Linked DNA regions of Homo sapiens. The protein of the gene in region 5 purifies or fractionates together with the protein of the main gene of each other region. This does not show direct contact. Each region holds a gene or a part of one and is shown on either strand. Other genes may lie near its edges. The genes, in order: HDAC1, HDAC3, HDAC2, INSR and SAP30L.

What was found.
Region 1: the proteins of SAP30L (region 5) and HDAC1 purify together in Homo sapiens (co-immunoprecipitation; 6 studies listed by BioGRID and IntAct, with this or other methods). This does not show direct contact.
Region 2: the proteins of SAP30L (region 5) and HDAC3 purify together in Homo sapiens (affinity purification with western blotting, with the first as the bait; one study listed by BioGRID). This does not show direct contact.
Region 3: the proteins of SAP30L (region 5) and HDAC2 purify together in Homo sapiens (affinity purification with mass spectrometry; 3 studies listed by BioGRID and IntAct, with this or other methods). This does not show direct contact.
Region 4: the proteins of SAP30L (region 5) and INSR purify together in Homo sapiens (co-immunoprecipitation; one large-scale study listed by IntAct). This does not show direct contact.

Annotation. Positions count from the first base shown.
Region 1 is NC_000001.11:32,298,579-32,302,098, forward strand, and holds part of HDAC1 (histone deacetylase 1), read left to right. Parts: intron 1-3,520. UniProt on the Homo sapiens protein: Histone deacetylase that catalyzes the deacetylation of lysine residues on the N-terminal part of the core histones (H2A, H2B, H3 and H4).
Region 2 is NC_000005.10:141,623,616-141,626,869, forward strand, and holds part of HDAC3 (histone deacetylase 3), read right to left. Parts: intron 2,669-3,254; coding exon 2,579-2,668; intron 2,457-2,578; coding exon 2,398-2,456; intron 2,150-2,397; coding exon 2,070-2,149; intron 1,751-2,069; coding exon 1,593-1,750; coding exon of another isoform or gene 1,505-1,592; exon of another isoform or gene 1,247-1,504; intron 1-1,246. UniProt on the Homo sapiens protein: Histone deacetylase that catalyzes the deacetylation of lysine residues on the N-terminal part of the core histones (H2A, H2B, H3 and H4), and some other non-histone substrates.
Region 3 is NC_000006.12:113,957,641-113,961,160, reverse strand, and holds part of HDAC2 (histone deacetylase 2), read left to right. Parts: intron 1-1,142; coding exon 1,143-1,255; intron 1,256-2,394; coding exon 2,395-2,512; intron 2,513-3,520. UniProt on the Homo sapiens protein: Histone deacetylase that catalyzes the deacetylation of lysine residues on the N-terminal part of the core histones (H2A, H2B, H3 and H4).
Region 4 is NC_000019.10:7,284,415-7,287,934, reverse strand, and holds part of INSR (insulin receptor isoform Long preproprotein), read left to right. Parts: intron 1-3,520. UniProt on the Homo sapiens protein: Receptor tyrosine kinase which mediates the pleiotropic actions of insulin.
Region 5 is NC_000005.10:154,452,478-154,455,997, reverse strand, and holds part of SAP30L (histone deacetylase complex subunit SAP30L), read right to left. Parts: exon of another isoform or gene 3,499-3,520; intron 2,597-3,498; coding exon 2,498-2,596; intron 99-2,497; coding exon 1-98.

The DNA.
Region 1 (3,520 bases), on a different chromosome or scaffold from region 5:
TTTGGCTCTGCCATTGAGAAGCTTTGTAATATCAGGCAAGTCACCTTACATTTCAGATTTCTCTCCTATAAAATCAAAATGATAGGAGTTCCTATTATGAGAACAATGATGGGAAAGCTCTTTAAGAGTTTAAAGTATGGCTGGCGCCATGGCTCACGTCTGTAATCCCAGCACTTTGAGAGGCCGAGGTGGGCGGATCACTTGAGGTCAGGAGTTCAAGACAAGCCTGGGCAACATGGTGAAACCCTGACTCTACTAAAAATACAAAACTTAGCCAGGCGTGGTGGCACATGTCTGTAATCCCAGCTACTCAGGAGGCTGAGGCAGGAGAATTGTTTGAACCTGGGAGGCAGAGGTTGCAGTGAGCCTGAGATCGCACCACTGCACTCCAGCCTGGGTGACAGAGTGAGACTCTGTCTCCAAAAATAAAAATTAAAATTAAGTAGTACCTAAATAAAAAGGACCATTTCTTTTAAAGTCTCTCAGCAACCTGATTAAGATATAGAGATATATCTTTATTTTAATTACAGTAAATTTAATCATAAAGGATGCAGTCACCCAAGAAGTTATATAGAAGAGGATCCAGGGTGGAATTCTAAGGAAGTGGACAGTGTCCCTCATGCTGTGTGCTCCCCTGTCATAGCATTTGTCAATGTGTATAGGAATACACACAGCACGGGTTGGCAAACTAATTAAAAACTGTTAAGAAAAGGATGGTTGGCCTGCACTGTTGGAGGCTCACATCTGTAATCCCAGCACTTTAGAAGGCTGATCAGGAGTTTGAAACCAGCCTGGGCAACAAAGCAAGATGCCATCTCTACAAACAAACAAACAAAAACATCAAACAAAAAAAAACATAAAAAGAAAAGGATGCTGTCTCAGAGCCCCACCCTCACTACCCTCACCTCAGATACTCCCTTAACCTTCTGGATAAGATATCTTAGTCCCCCAGGTCTGAGCCTTGGCTGGATCTAGGCTTGATAGGCAAGGGAGTTGCTAGGGATCAAGGCTCATGCCTTTTTTTCACTGGGTGCCTAGAGCTCTGCCTCATCCTAATAAATCTCTAAGGAGAGATCTTTGGGTGTGTAGTTCACTTGATTTTGCAACATTGTTCAAGGAATTTTCTATCAGGTAGACTTATAGAGCCCTCTAGATTAAGTGCAAACTGAAGTAGGTACCTGAGAAGCCCAATGTAGGGCCTGGCACGGTGGCTCACACCTGTAATCCCAGCACTTTGGGAGGCCGAGGTGGACGGATCACGAGGTCAGGAGATCAAGACCATCCTGGTTAACACGGTGAAACCCCGTCTTTACTAAAAGTACAAAAAAAATTAGCCGGGCTTGATGGCAGGCATCTGTAGTCCCAGCTGCTTGGGAGGCTGAGGCAGGAGAATGGCGTGAACCCTGGAGGCGGAGCTTGCAGTGAGCCGAGATCGCACCACTGCACTCCAGCCTGGGCGACAGAGCGAGACTCTGTCTCAAAAAAAAAGAAAAAAGGAAAATCCAATGTAGCTTTTAGCATATTGGATTTGGAGTCCGAAGAGTGGACTCCAGATCAGTCATTAGCTGTGTGATCTTGAGCAGGCACTTAACTTCTCTGAGTCTCAATTCAATTCATTGAATCTTTATTGAGCCTCTGTGATATACAAGGCATATTAATCCTTGCCTTCAAGGGGTACCCAGTCTTGTGGATATAGTCATGTAAATAATTCAGATATAAAACAATCCTAGCACTTTGGGAGGCTGAGGTGGGCATATCACTTGAGGTGAGGAGTTCCAGACCAGCCAGGCCAACATAGTGAAACCCCACCTCTACTAAATATGAAAATTAGCTGGATTTGGTGGCACGCACCTGTAATCCCAGCAATTTAGGAGGCTGAGGCAGGAGAACTGCTTGAACCTGGGAGGCAGAGGTTGCACTGAGCCGCCGAGATAGTACCATTGCACTCCAGCCTAGGCGACAGAGTGAGACTCCGTCTCAAGAAATAAAAAAAAAAAGAAAAGAAAACTAATGAAGTGCTGTATACAAATTGCATGTAGAGGAAAAGACCATTTATTTTGATCAAGAAAGGGTTTGGAGCTTGAGGTGGGCTTTGTAGTATGAGCATCATCAAAGAAAGGAGGACATTTCAGGTCAAAGGAATAGTCTGCACAGAGGATACTGTGGTGTGAAGGTGAATGTCATGTTCAGGATACTGATCATAATCTGGTGTGTCTGGAGCACAGGTTGGCAAACTTTTTCTATATAGGGCCAGATAGTAAATATTTTAGGCTTTATTTTGCCATATGCTTGGGTGTCTGTGGCAACTAAACTGCTCAGCTCTGCCACTGTAGTGTGAAAACAGCCATAGAGGAACTGTAAACGGATGGGCATGGCTGTGTTCCAATAAAATTTTATTTACCAAAACAGGCAACTAGTTGTATTTGTCCCAAGGGCCATAGTTTGCCTACTCCAGTCTAGAGCAAAGAGAGAGAGAGAGTGAGTGTGTGTGTGTTGTGGGAAAGGGTGGTAGCAGGAGATGAAGCTGGAAAGGCAGGTTAAGAAAGTCCTTGGATGAAGCTGGAAAGGCAGATTAAGAAAGTCCTTGGCCGGGCGCGGTGGCTCATGCCTGTAATCCCAGCACTTTGGGAGGCCGAGGCGGGCAGATCACAAGGTCAGGAGATCAAGACCATCCTGGCTAACACAATGAAACCCCGTCTGTACTAAAAATACAAAAAATTAGCTGGGCATGGTGGCAGGCGCCTGTAGTCCCAGCTACTCGGGAGGCTGAGGCAGGAGAATGGCGTGAACCCTGGAGGCGGAGCTTGCAGTGAGCTGAGATCGCGCCACTGCACTCCAGCCTGGGCAACACAGCGAGACTCTGTCTCAAAAAAATAAATAAATAAAGTAAAAGAAAGTCCTTGAATGCTGGCCAGGCGCGGTGGCTCACACCTGTAATCCCGGCACTTTGGGAGGCCGAGGTGAGTGGATCAACTGAGGTTAGGAGTTTGAGACCAGCCTGACCAACAAGGTGAAACCCCTTCTCTACTAAAAATACAAAAATTAGCCAGGCATGGTAGCACATGCCTGTGATGCCAGCTACTTGAGAGGCTGAGGCAGGAGAATTGTTTGAACCCAGGAGGCGAAGGTTGCAGTGAGCTGAGATTGCACCACTGCACTCCAGCTTGGGCAACAGATCGAGACTTGTCTCAAAAAAAAGAAAGTCCTTGAATGCCAGTCTTCTGAAGTTATTATTATTAAATGTTGAGACCCAGCCTGGTCTTGAACTCCTGGGCTCAAGTGATTTTCCTGCCTCAGCCTCCAGAGTAACTGGGATTACAGGCTCATGCCACCATGCCTATCTCTATTAAAGTTATTCTTTACTCTTTATCCTGTAGGGGATGGGGAGCCATAAGGATTTTTTGAGCGAAGGAGTGATGTTATCAGAATTGTGGATTAGGAAAATAACTCTGGTGACAGTGTGGCAGGTAGTGTGAATTGAAGGTAGAGGGACCAATTAGAAGGCTAGTGTTATAGATTA
Region 2 (3,254 bases), about 13 Mb from region 5:
TTCCTCACTCAGAAGGGATCGGGGGATATCCTTGGAGGAAGAGAGTTGCAGAGATCCCCAAGAGTCAGAGCAGTAAAGCCCAGGTCCAGAGGAGAGATTCGGAGGCCTGAATTCTAAGACAGAAGCAGATTCTAGAAGGGGCTGAGAAGCCCATCAGGCTCTGCAGCAGAGCCGGCTCAAACCTCTAACCCTGCGTGGGAGCAAGACAGCGTGTCCCACAAGTGTCCAGCTGTGGTTATCCCTCAGTCATGTAAGGAAATCTGTTCCCCATTAAGTGCATCTGTTTCTGCACTTCTTGGTTCTGTTGTCTTTCCCTTTCATTTTTCAGCAAAGTTTTGGGATTAAAAAAAAATTCCATCCTATCCTTTTTCCCCCCTAATTCATTCCATCTACAAATATTTTGTATGTATCTCAGAAAGATAAAGACTTTTAAAAAAAAAAAAAAAACATAACCACAATGCAATTATCCCACCCGAAAAAATTAACAGAGCAAAGAAATCAAAGAGCCTTAGAGAGTATTACGCAGGCAGTGACCTGTCCAGCTCAAGACCTGGAAAGACTGAGAAAAATGCTGGCAAGACTATAGGGTGCTACAGACTTTCTGGACGGCAATTTGGCAGCAAATATAAAAAATTTTAGGCCAGGCTCAGTGGCTCACGCCTATAATCCCAGCACTTTGGAAGGCTGGGGCAGGAGGACATTTGAGCCCAGGAGTTTGAGACCAGCCTGGGCAACAAGGCAAGACTCCGTCTCTACCAAAAAAAAAAAAAAAAAAAAAAAAAAAAAAAAAAATTAGCCAGGTGTCGTGGTGCACACCTATGATTCCAGCTACTCGAGGGGCTGAGGCAGGAGGATCGCTTGAACCCAGGAGTTCAAGATTGCAGTGAGCTATAATCATGCCACTGTACTCCAGCCTGGGTGACAGAATGAGACCCTGTCTCAAAAAAAAAAAAAAAAAAAAAATTAATGCACACAGCCTTTGACCTAGCAGCAACCATTCTACTATCTAACCCACTCAAACAAGAATGCAAAGATGTATAATGTAAGGGGGTTCATTGCCACATTATTATTGTAATACCAAAAAAATGGAAAATAATCTATCCACATAGTAAATTATTATACAGCTGATAAAATACTGAAGCAGATCTATATTAGCTAGCTGAAAACAGCTATATGATGTAAAGCAGCATACGTAGAATGACCCTATTTGTATTTACGAAAAACCAAAAACCACACAAACTGTAAATGAGTGTATATGTGTTTGTTTATATGTACATACAGAATAGTATATTTGCAATCTATAGAAAAAGGTCTATCCAAAACAATAAAAACTATTAACAGTGGTTACTCCTGTGGAATAGGTCTGGGATTGTGTGAACGCCAACACCATATTTTGGTGCTGTTTTAAAATTTTGCAATAAATACGTGTTACTTTTGTCATTAAAAATAACAAAGAAAAGAGTGAGGAAATTGTAGCAGACTAAAGGAGGTAAGCCAGAGGCAATTAAACTAATACCTTCCCATTTACTTTTTCCCTTTTAAACCTCCCCAGCAAGCCTATTGAAAGTAGGCTGAAGTCCCTGCTCCCAGACCTGCTATAGTTCTCCTCAGGACCCCTCTCCTCTGCATCAGCCTCATCAGTCCTGTCATAGGTCAGGAGGTCTGCAGGCACGTCATGAATCTGGACACTAGGTGCATGGTTCAGCATCTTCAGGTTTTCAAAGATTGTCTGGCGGATCTGGTCCAGATACTGGTTGGAAATGAGGAATACAGAGTGAGCAGTTTCCAGAGATTCCCAGGACATGGAATCTCCTAGCTGCCTTTTACCCCTACCATACTGGTTTTCATCTCAGTGGTACCTCTAGTTCAGGTCCCCCAACTGATAGCTCTCCCTCCCCACCAACCCCAACTGCCTCTACTTTAAACTGGACTGCCTCCTAGTCAATAACAGTGACTGTGATGGCTTAGAACTTCCTTCTCTTTGGTTTTTCCTACTTCCCACATCTTTGACCTCTCCTGGGCTCCACCTTTCAGGAGAAGTTTGTGCTCAGCTTTTCTGAGCTGCTGACCTGGCGTGAGTTCTGATTCTCGATGCGGGTGCTGACATCTGGATGAAGTGTGAAGTCTGGGGCAAAGTACTCGAAGTATTCTTGGGGAGGAGAGGAGAAAGTATGGCTCAGACTGAGAAAGGCAGCTAACAAGACTTCCCAATCTTTTTCCTTCCCATCCAGAGCACCTACATAATAGCTGCCCAATCTCTTCCCTGCTCTGAGCCCAGGGGTTTAGTCTGCAGAGCTCTGAGAGTGTAAAATTTCCCATGTGCCTTCAAACCAGGTCATTCTGGAATCTGGTGAGAATGGCCTTCCTGTTATGGGGGTGTTGTGGGGTGGTCCTTACCACTATAGGGAAGCTCCTCACTAATGGCCTCTTCTACCAGCAGCGATGTCTCATATGTCCTGAAACCAACCAGCAGAGGGGAGCAGGCTGACCAAGTGGGCTGAAGGACCCATGTGGCCATATCTGAGGGACACCCTAGCTCACACTGGACAACAGGGGAGGAAATCAGGAGAGTGCTCACCAGCAGCGGGCAACATTTCGGACAGTATAACCACCACCACCCAGCACGAGTAGAGGGATATTGAAGCTCTTGACATATTCAACGCATTCCCTGTTAAAAGGAACCAGAGGAAGATGTGGAGGAGGTTATCAAAAGACAAGGTAAATACCTTTAGGTATTGCCTGAAAGGAGCACAAGAAAACTATAAATGTTCTAAATCTTTATCTTGATAGTGAAATTCATTATGTTATACCCTTAAGATTTGGGTATACTTTATATGCTGTGTCTCAATAAAAATTTTAAAATAAAGCACAGTCCCCCCTCTGTTCTGCTCAACACCCTCCCTGGCACCCTGCCTGCTAATCAACTATTCTCATCAACCCAAGTTCTGTCAATTCTAGCCTTGAAAATATAACTCACGCCCGGCGCGGTGCTCACGCCTTTGTAGTAGTCCCAGCTACTCAGGAGGCTGAGGCAGGAGAAATGCTTGAACCCAGGAGGCAGAGCTTGCACTGAGCCAAGATCGTGCCACTGCACTCCAGCCTGGGTGACAGAGCAAGACTCCATCTCAAAAAAGAAAAAAAAAAACATATATATGTGTGTGTGTGTGTGTATATATATATATATACACACACACACACACACACCTCTCAGATCATCTACTTCTCTCCATTGCCACCCCCTCCACCTTAGTCTG
Region 3 (3,520 bases), on a different chromosome or scaffold from region 5:
GAAATGATAGACTTCAAACCATTAAAATAGCTTGACTGTCCTGACCCTGTGGGGAATTAGTTCCAAGACTTCCACAGATAGCAAAATTCATGGGTGTTTAAGTTCCTTCAATAAACTGGTATAGTATTTGCATATAACCTATGTATATCTCCCCTTACACTTTAAGTCATCTCTAGATTACTCATAATACCTAATACAATGCAAATGCAGTGTAAATAGTTGTTACACTGTATGATTTAGGGGAAGATTACAAGGAAAAAAAGTCTCTACGTGTTTCCAGCAGACACCACCATCTATTTTTTAAAAATATTTTCAGTCTGCAGTTGATTGAATCCACAGATACAGAGGGTTGACTTTATATATTTGAGAGGCTTCTTGTTATTTACTATTATAGGAAACACTGGAGCTTTACCTAAAAGTATTAATTTTATTGAAATTTAGTTGATGAAAATCTGTGATTTTGTTATTTTCTCTTTTTTAAATCTTATGCATAAGTTTAAAGACATTGTGATATAAGATGCCGTTTAAAAAGACAGGCTAGGAATTACAACTTTTTAGTCATGAAGAATGAGACAGTATTTTTATTACCTTGAAAAATGTAATGCTGTGTCTTAGTGGAGCAAAACCTCATTTAGGACCTAAATTTCAGTTACCAAAACTTCCCTGATGGGCTTTAATATGGACACGGTATGTTTTAACATGCAAAACGCCAATTATGAGATTTCTGAAATGCCAGCAAATCATCCAAAAAGCAGTATTTGCTGAAAAAATTTTAAATCATACCAATAAAACTCAGAGAACTTAAAAGCATGTGAATTTGCCAGAGAATACAGAAAGCAGGCATCATTTCAAGGAACAGAAATTTTAAAAATTGGGGGTAGCTAAAAATCAGAAAAGCTTGCTTTCCTTAATCTACAAATAAATATAATGTGTAATAATGGAGTCTTCAGCTGGTAAAAGTGTGCGTAGCGTCTTAGTCATCTGATACAGTTTGAAAGTTGCAAAATAAATCTAAGTTGCTAAGGTTTTAAATAAATTTTGTTAAGTAGTAAATGCCTTCTAATGATAGACATACATAAATTCAAATAGTTCATGGAGGGTCTCTTGTCTGTATTGTTTAGTTTGTGTCTTTTCTATTTTAGGTGATATTGGAAATTATTATTATGGACAGGGTCATCCCATGAAGCCTCATAGAATCCGCATGACCCATAACTTGCTGTTAAATTATGGCTTATACAGAAAAATGGAAATATATGTGAGTATTCCTTTTAATACATATTCAGCACTGATCTTTTTTATTTTTTTTTAGCTACTGTGAAACTTTGTCTATTATTCCCCTTTTGAGGGCATTTAGCAGATGAAAAGATCTGGAAGAAAACAAACTTCTTTTTTCGTTTATTCTTAGGAGATGAATAAGAATGAGAGCTATACCCTCTTTTTCCTTTTCCTTTAACCATTTAAAAAAGTTCCCCCTACCCTAGGCTTTCATGGTTCTGGAGAACAACTCAGTATAGCAACAACTCAGTGTAGCATATTAAGTATTTTTTTTTTTTTTTTTTTTTTTACAATAATTGTTAATCTGCCTGTGCTGCTGAAAAGAGTTGACCTGGGACTGTTACAAAATAATAACACATAAAATTAATCCCACAAATATTTGCAGGGCATATAATACATATGGAATACTGTGTTAGTGTGGCCAAGCATAGTACAGATAACACAAGTGCAACAGCTGCCTTAATGTTTTTGTAGATAAAGATGAGGGTATGTATAAACAAATACAGACACGACAATTAGCTATTTGGGGAGAAAAGAAATATTTAAAACAATTAATGCTAGGCAATATATGTGAATATGTGAATTATTTTCAGTTACATGTAGACATTTAGAGAAGAGGGGAAGTTAGAATAAGACTCAGTCTGGAAGTCTTGTGGAAGAATTGTGTCATACGTGAAATTGAGCTCTTCGGAACAAGGAAGATTAGGATAGAAAAAAGGACGAGAGGTCGTGAACAAAGATTTAGAATTGAAAACTCTTGTAGTGAGTGATTTCATTGATGAAATCACTGGATGTTTTATCATGGAAAAGGAGAGAAAGTAGAGTTTATGAACATATGGATTTGACTTTTTACTCGAACTGTTTCCACTAAAATAAGGAGTGATTAAATCATAGTTGATATGCCTGTGTAATGCTTTTAAAGGAGTTTGAATTAGTTTTGAGATTGATTACTGTTTTCTAAAACACATATAAGTTTGGGTTAGTTTTGGAATTTATATATTTTGTTCTGGTAGACTTGGTTCTTTTGAGGGGACCGATAGGGGAATTTGTATATTTGTTTGATAATACTGATATAACCGGTTGTAATTCCACAGTTCTGACATTTATTTCTCTTCACAGAGGCCCCATAAAGCCACTGCCGAAGAAATGACAAAATATCACAGTGATGAGTATATCAAATTTCTACGGTCAATAAGACCAGATAACATGTCTGAGTATAGTAAGCAGATGCAGAGATGTACGTTTCTAAGTAAAAAGTAGTTTTGCTTTGATAAATGTAAATTAGTATTTTTAGGAGCTTAGAATGATCTAAATCTGAATATTTTTCCTGTTGGTCTAATATGTTACAGTTATTTACTGATTTGAAAAGTCATTTTAACACTACTAAAGCTACTTAAGAAAAAAGTAAACCTATCTGAAGCTTATTGGTTTGCAAAACTGCTGTTTGGGTATTCTTCTACTCCTAGTTTGCTCCCCTGATAACTTTGGGTTAATACATATTGGTAGGGAGACCTCACTCCCTTACTCCCTCGCTTCAAAAAAACAAAAACAAGATTACACTTTGATTAGCCTTAGCTTGGCATGTACATATCTCTTGTCTTGTCTTTGTGTACTTCAGTTAACCTGGACTATAATACACATCTCTTTTTCTTTGTTAAGATATTAGTGAAGCTTTTGATTCTACGTAATGTTCTCTTGTACAGGTTAAAAGTATTTTATTTTTAGAGATTAGTAACAAATTGGCTTGAAGGTAGAATGCAAAAGTCAACCTAAAATTATTGGAACAGTATCTTTTAAAGCTTGATACCAAAGTTCATTCTCATTAGTGTTTGTATTGACTGACTTCAGTGATGATTATACTAAATTAGTGTAGGTGCTAGACATCTCATATTTACAACCTCATACACATTTCTGCCATATCTTGTTTGATTTGTTATAATGCTACAATGTAACTAGAACATGTAGTATTTAATTTTTTTTTTTTCAATGAAGATTCCAACTTAGATGCAAAAGAGGCATGAGTAGCCCTTGGGCAAACAACATAACAGGATTGATTTAAAACCCACATAATAATGAGTTCTATTAAGCTTATGATCCTGGCCAGGTGTGGTGGCTCACGCCTGTAATCCCAGCACTTTGGGAGGCGGAGGTGAGTGGATTACCTGAGGTCAGGAGTTCGAAACCAGCCTGGCCAACATGGCAAAACCCTGTCTCTATTAAAAAAGTACAGAAAATTAGCTGGGTG
Region 4 (3,520 bases), on a different chromosome or scaffold from region 5:
TGCGCAAAAATGCCCCGACACGGCAGGTTGAGTAGTTAAAACAGGAATTCCATGGCCAAAATATTTACACTTTGGCCCTTTACAGAACAGCGTTTGCTGACCTCTGATCTGGAACAGACGCCTTGAGGTTTCATTCATGATAGCATGCCTAATAGCTTGTGCAGTCCCTGGTACAACTCGAATGAAGTGAGTGAAATGAAACGCTATGTCTTTCTCTTTACACCGCAAGAGATGTTAAAGAAACGTGTGTCATTTGCTGCACTGAATATACGGATTCCAAGGATGAGAAAAATCACCGTGATGTTGCCTACTTAGCCATGTGTATTTATTTAAACAGCTATATTGGCATTGAATGAGGATTTCATGCTCTCAACCCTGTATCTAGAACCCAAAATATAACTGGTGTATATAATGAGATTTTTTTTTTTTCTCTCAGGCCTCTCTTGTGTTAATTTCTGTTAAGAATACTTCTGGGCCAGGTGTGGTGGCTCACGCCTGTAATCCCAAGCACTTTGGGAGGCCGAGGTGGGTGGATCACTTGAGGTCAGGAGTTCGAGACCAGCCTGACCAACATGGTGAAACCCCATCTTTACTGAAAAAATACAAAATTAGCCAGGCGTGGTGGCGCATGCCTGTAATCCCAGCTAGTTGGGAGGCTGAGGCAGGAGAATCGCTTGAACCTGGGAGGTGGAGGTTGCAGTGAGCCGAGATTGCGCCACTGCACTCTAGCCTGGGTGACAGAGCGAAACTCCATCTCAAAAAAAAAAAAAAAAAAGAATATTTTTGGCCAGGTGCAGTGGCTCATGCCTGCAATCCCAGCACTCTGGGAGGCTGAGGTGGGAGGATTACATGTGTCCAGGAGTTTCAGATCAGCCTGGACAACACAGCAAGACCCTGTCTCCACTAACAATAAAACAAAAATTAGCTGGGCATGGTGGCATGTGTCTGTAGTCCCAGCTACTTGGGAGGCTGAGATGGGAGGACCTCTTGAGGCTGGAAGGGCAAGGCTGCAGTGAGCTGTGATTGTACCACTGCACTCCAGCCTGGGCAACAGTGAGATCCTCTCTCTGTCTCAAACAAAAAAAGAATACTTCTTGGGGTGGCCTGGTTGATATTTTGCAGCTGCATGGTATTTACAGTTTTTAATTAAATAGTGACGGGTAATGCATTCTCATTGCAAAAAGAAAAATTACAAAAGTGTAGAAAGGAAAAAAAAAACACAGAAGTCCTTCTGCAAAATCTTGTGGTGGGGTGCAGTGGCTCACACCTGTAATCCCTGGACTTTTTAGGAAGCTGAGGTGGGAGGAACACTTGAAGCCAGCAGTTTGAGACCAGCCTGGGCAACATAATGAGACATTATCTCTAGAAAAAGTTTAAAAATTAGCTGAGCATGGTGGTGTGTACCGGTAGTCCCAGCTACTCAGGAGGCTGAGGTGGGAGGATCGCTTGAGCCCAGAAGGTTGAGGCTACAGTAAGCCATATTCATGCCACTGCACTCCAACCTGGGTGATAGAGCCCGACCCTGTCTCAAAAAGAAAAGAAATAATAAAAAAAAATCTTGTCCCCCTGTCCCCAAAAGCATTCCATTCATGTCCAGGGAGGTAACTGTGCCATTGGTTTATGTATCTTTTTGATGTTTAGTAATTTTTTAGGCTAGGTGTCATGGGGCCACTCCTGTAATCCCAGCACTTTGGGAGGCCGAAGCAGGTGGATCTCTTGAGCCCAGGAGTTCAAGACCAGCCTGGGTAACATAGCAAGACCCCGTCTCTACAAAACCCTACAAAAAAATTATCCAGATACAGTGGTGAGCACCTGTGGTCCCAGCTACTAGGGAGGCTGAGGTGGGAGGATCACCTGAGCCTGGGAAGTCGAGGCGCCAGTGAGCTGTGATTGCACCACTGCATCCAGCCTGGGTGACATAGTGAGACTGTGTAACAACAACAACAACAAAATATTTTAAACATTATCATACAGTAAAATTGGCTTTTTAAAGGTGTACCATTTTATGATTTTTAAGCCATGTGTAGAGTTGTATGGCTATTGCCACAATTAGGATAGAGAACAGTCTCGTTGTTGTCCAAACTCCCTCAATTCACCCCTTTATCACTAAACCACCTCCACCCCTAACCACAGATCTGTTCTCCATCCCTATAGTTTTCTCTAGACTTTAAAAGATTTTATCTTATAATTGGATTAATATTCCTAAAGTTGAAATTTTAAATTTGAGTCTGGTTGATCCTCATCATTCCCAGATCCCATATTTTCTTTTTAAAATTTAAAATTTAAATTTTTATTTTGAGAGGCAGGTTCTTGCTCTGATACCCAGGCTGGAGTGCAGTGGTGTGGTCCTAATTCCCTGCAGCCTCCAACTCTTGAGCATCAACGATCCTCCTGCCTCAGCCTCCTGAGTAGCTGGGACTACAGGCACACACCACCATGCTCAGCTAGTTTTTATTGTTATTTATTTATTTATTTATTTTTGAGACGGAGTCTCACTAACTCTGTTGCCCAGGCCAGACTGCAGTGGTGTGATCTGGGTTCACTGCAACCTCTGCTTCCTGGGCTCAAGCAACTCTCCTGCCTCAGCCTTTCTAGTAGCTGGGGTTACAGGCACGCCACCATGCCCGGCTAGTTTTTTTTATTTTTAGTAGAGATGGGGTTTTACCATGTTGGTCAGGCTGGTCTCAAACTCCTGGCTTCAAGTGATCCGCCCACTTCAGCCTCCCAAAGTGCTGGGATTACAGGCGCGAGCCACTGTGCCCGGCCTAATTTTTAACTTTTCAGCAGGGATAAGGGCTCGCTATGTTGCCCAGGCTGGTCTCGAACTCCTGGCCTCAAGTGATCCTCCCATCTTGACTTCCTAAAGTACTGGGATTACAGGCATGAGCCACTGCACCTGGCCCCAGACCCTGTATTTTTGAATTCACCTACTCACTCAAATGTATTTGTAACCCTCAAACCAGCATGCTCAGTGCCTTTCTGGTCATTTTAGGACACTCATAAGTACGAGTCTCAAATGTGAGGTCAAGTAAGAGGGCATTCCACCTTCTTGCTTCAGCCCTTATGCGTCAGATTCATACAATCTGCACACTGAGGATTAAAACTAGTCCTTTTTGAGCAGGCGCAGTGGCTCATGCCCAGCGCTTTGGGAGTCCGAGGCGAGTGGATCACGAGGTCAGGAGATCGAGACCATCCTGGCTAACATGGTGAAACCCTGTCTCTACTAAAAATACAAAAAATTAGCCAGGTGTGGTGGCGGGCGCCTGTAGTCCGAGCTACTCCGGAGGCTGAGGCAGGAGAATCACTTGGACCCAGGAGGTGGAGGTTGCAGTGAGCCGAGATTGTGCCTCTGCACTCCAGCCTGGGTGACAGGGTGAGACTCAAAACAAAAAACAACAACAAAAAAACCTGAGTCCTTTTTGTGGTTATTTGGTGCCACATTTTTAGCATTTTTGTGCTTTCAGTTGGTGATGGGGCTGTTTCAAATGCCCCCCAGGGTGCTGAAGCCCTGCTCTCTACT
Region 5 (3,520 bases):
TGGTCCAGTCTACTCTTGTTACTCTTCACCATGTAGATGAAGTAGGCAAGGGTCTCTTTTTCATTCACAGGTATGTTCCTGAAGTGTCGACTCACAGTCTATGTGGGGGGAAAATACCAAAGTTCCTTAAACCATGCACAAATCACACCGCAAATTCTACATTGTACAAAGAAGCGAATGGAGTTGTTTGCATGCTGTGGCGGGAATGACAAATGCTGAAGAACTTCCTGCCATGTGCGGAACTCAGAGTGCCCTTTGCCCTTCCTCCCCAGGGATGTAGGTGGTTTAATTTCCAGGATCCAAAAGTGGCTTTTTAACCTACAACTCTTCCAAGGTGCAGTTCTATTTCAGTGGCAGCCAACCACCTGTCATGGCATGATTTCACAGTCATACTCATGGAGGAGAGACTGGGACTGCTCTGGTTGGCCAGCTGCTACCAAACCTCTCAGGCCTTGAAAGTGGGAAGAAATGTGTCTTTAAAAAATTGTGGGGCAGGCGTGGTGGCTCACACCTATAATCCCAATGCTTTGGGAGGTTAAGGTGGGAGGATTAGTTGAGGCCAGGAGTTCGAGACCAGCCTAGGCAACACAGTGGAGAACTCATCTCTACCAAAAAATTAGCCAGGTGTCGTAGCATGCACCTGTGGTCCCAGCTACTCAGGAGGCTGAGGTGGGAGGATCACTTGAGCCCAGGAGGTTGAAGCTGCAGTGAGCTGTGACTGCACCCCAGCCTAGGAGACAGAGCAAGACCTTGTCTCAAAAACAAATAAAAATTGGGTTAGGCTGGGGATGGTGGCTCACACCTGTAATCCTAGCACTTTGGGAGGCCAAGGCAGGCAGATCACCTGAAGTCAGGAGTCCGAGACCAGCCTGGCCAACATGGTGAAACCCAGCCTCTACTAAAAATACAAAGATTAGCCGGGTGTGGTGACAGGCACCTGTAATCCCAGCCACTCGGGAAACATGGAGAAGAATCACTTGAACCCGGGAGGTGGAGGCTGTGGTGAGCTGAGATCATAGCAATGCACTCCAGCCTGGGAGATAGAGCAAGACTCTGTCTTTAAAAAAAAAAAAAAATTGTGTTAAATGAACAGCCAATTGAACAAATTGAACAGAGGCATCTGAACCCCAAAATTCTTCTAAGTAGTGCATAACTGCCTCCTGAAAGACATATCAGGTTTGAAGGAAAATGCATCATTTACTAATGCTCCTAATACTTCATTCCATAAGTAATGAGAATGCAGGTCTCCTCTTGCCCCACCTCATTCTTTCCCTTCCACCAGGGAGAACACTGGCAAATGGGTGATGTTATTTTAAAGTAGGAGAGGCTTCTGACCTCCTGTGTGTCATCTGGACACTGGTGAAGGAGTTGTTTAAGAAAAAGTGACGGTCGAGCAAGAAACCTCTAAAGGAAAAACCAAAAATGAAACAGGCTGGAAGCCTTTCAGGAAATCTCAATGGATCAAGGTGGCTGAAACAGATAAAAAAAGACAGAGAACTAGACATAAAGAGTGGTTATCTCTGGATGATAGAATTATATTTTTCTTTTCTCCATTTTCCAACTTTTCTGTAATAGGCAGAAAAATATATTAAGAAAAGAGGGATTAGAAAATACCTGCAGAAATGACAAAGACAGAATTATCAAGCCAGGCAGTTCATGTATTTTAAAAATGGCCAGTGGAGCATTTCCCCGTAATCCAAACTGTGTTAATAACTCAGGGCAGGAGAAAACTTTCTTGGGTGCCATTCATTAAAATACTGTCATTACCAACACCAGAGTAGGAGAAATCAAGGAAAAAAAAATAGCTCCTGTAGAACATCAAGGTTTTGAAATGATTAATCTGACACACAAAATGATCATATCTAAAAAGCATTTTGCTAAGCCAGGCACAGTGGCTCACGCCTGTAATCTCAGCACTTTGGGAGGCTGAGGTGGAAGGATGGCTTGAGCCAAAGAGAATCACTTGAGCAACATAGTGAGGCTGCATCTCTATAAAAATAAAATTAGCTGTGCATAGGGGTGTGCACCTGTGGTCCTAGCTACTCTGGAGGCTGAGGTGGGAAGGATCACTTGAAGCTGGGAGGTTGGGGCTGCAGTCAGCCCAGACTGAGCCACTGCACTCTAGCCTGGGTGATAAAGCAAAATCTTGTCTCCAAAAAAACAAAAAGAGGAATCTTCCAAAAAAGATTCAAACAAATGAACACTCAGGACTTAGAATCTGGAGTCATGAGATCCCAGGCTCAATTCTGCTATCAACTTGCTGTGTGATTTTAAGCAAATCCTTTCCTCTTTCTGTGCCATGGTTTCTTTTCTGGAACTGAGGCCTTTGCAGGTCTAAAGCTGTGGGGTTCTAAATTGCCAAAGAGGAATACAGAGTTGCTTCCAGAACTCTGGAGGAAATTACAATTAGCAGACACACAAGGTAAGGGAGAATCAGGGTAACCATCAGAAGCAGCACAATGCTGGCTCTCTTTAGAGGGCAATTTTGTCTACCTACTTCTGCTAACTGGGCCTTATTGAAGCCTGGTCTGGTCTGCAACTTGTAGTGTCGTTTATAACGTCGTAGGGTGTTCACCTGCAGCTGGAACAGATCAACCTAGGGAGAAGAGGAGAAAAATGTTATCCATCACCTGACCACCCAGGACTCACCAAGAGCCCACTATGTGCCTAGCACTACACTAAGGTAGGGGTGAGGATGGGGAGGGCTTCAAAAGAGGTCTTAGAAATGGTCTATTGAGGACTAGTAACTGGCTAGGAGGGCAAAAATAACAGTAGAAAAACAGTTCTGGCTGGGGTGGGCTGATCTCACAAAACTGGTGGAAAAGGTAAAGCTTAAGCTAAGGAGGAGCAGGGTCTGATAAAGCACTGAGAAACGGTAGGGAATAGGGGAAAAGATCACAGCACAGAGAGCTGGGAGAGGCACAGATGGGCAAGGGGGTCACAGGCAACTGTGATGAATTTAAAAGGTGAGAATGGATGGTAGCACATCCAGAAAAACAGAAGGAGCTATCACAGAGGGTGGAGGGCGATGGCGCAGGATGGGTCTGGTGGTGGTTGTTGGGAAGACTGATGGGGGGATACGGAGGGAGATGCTATAGCAACAATCAGAATGAGATGAAGAGGCTGAGCTTTGGAGGGGCAGTGATGCTAGAAGGGACACCAAAGATGGAGAGCAAAGGCAAAAACCAGAGACATCCTGGAGGATGATAGGCCAGAACGAGGCAGCGACCGGATAGAGGAGCACAAAGGAGGGCTGTTATCCTCAAATAGCTCTTTGCTAGGCCCAGCCTTCTGGTATTAGAATCCTTAACCTCCCTCCAGAGAAAGTTCAAAAGTTACTGTAGTGAATGTGCAATCCAGCAGGTTAGGGCTGGGGTCTTTGCAGATGACTGGATAACAGAGGGGAAGGGACCCCCCCTTTTTGTTTCTAACAAAGGAAGAGAGGAAAGCTGCATAGTCATGAAAAATTGAAGGCCCATAAAGTTGGGCTGCCTTTACCTGCCTCTAAAAGAGCTGTTCT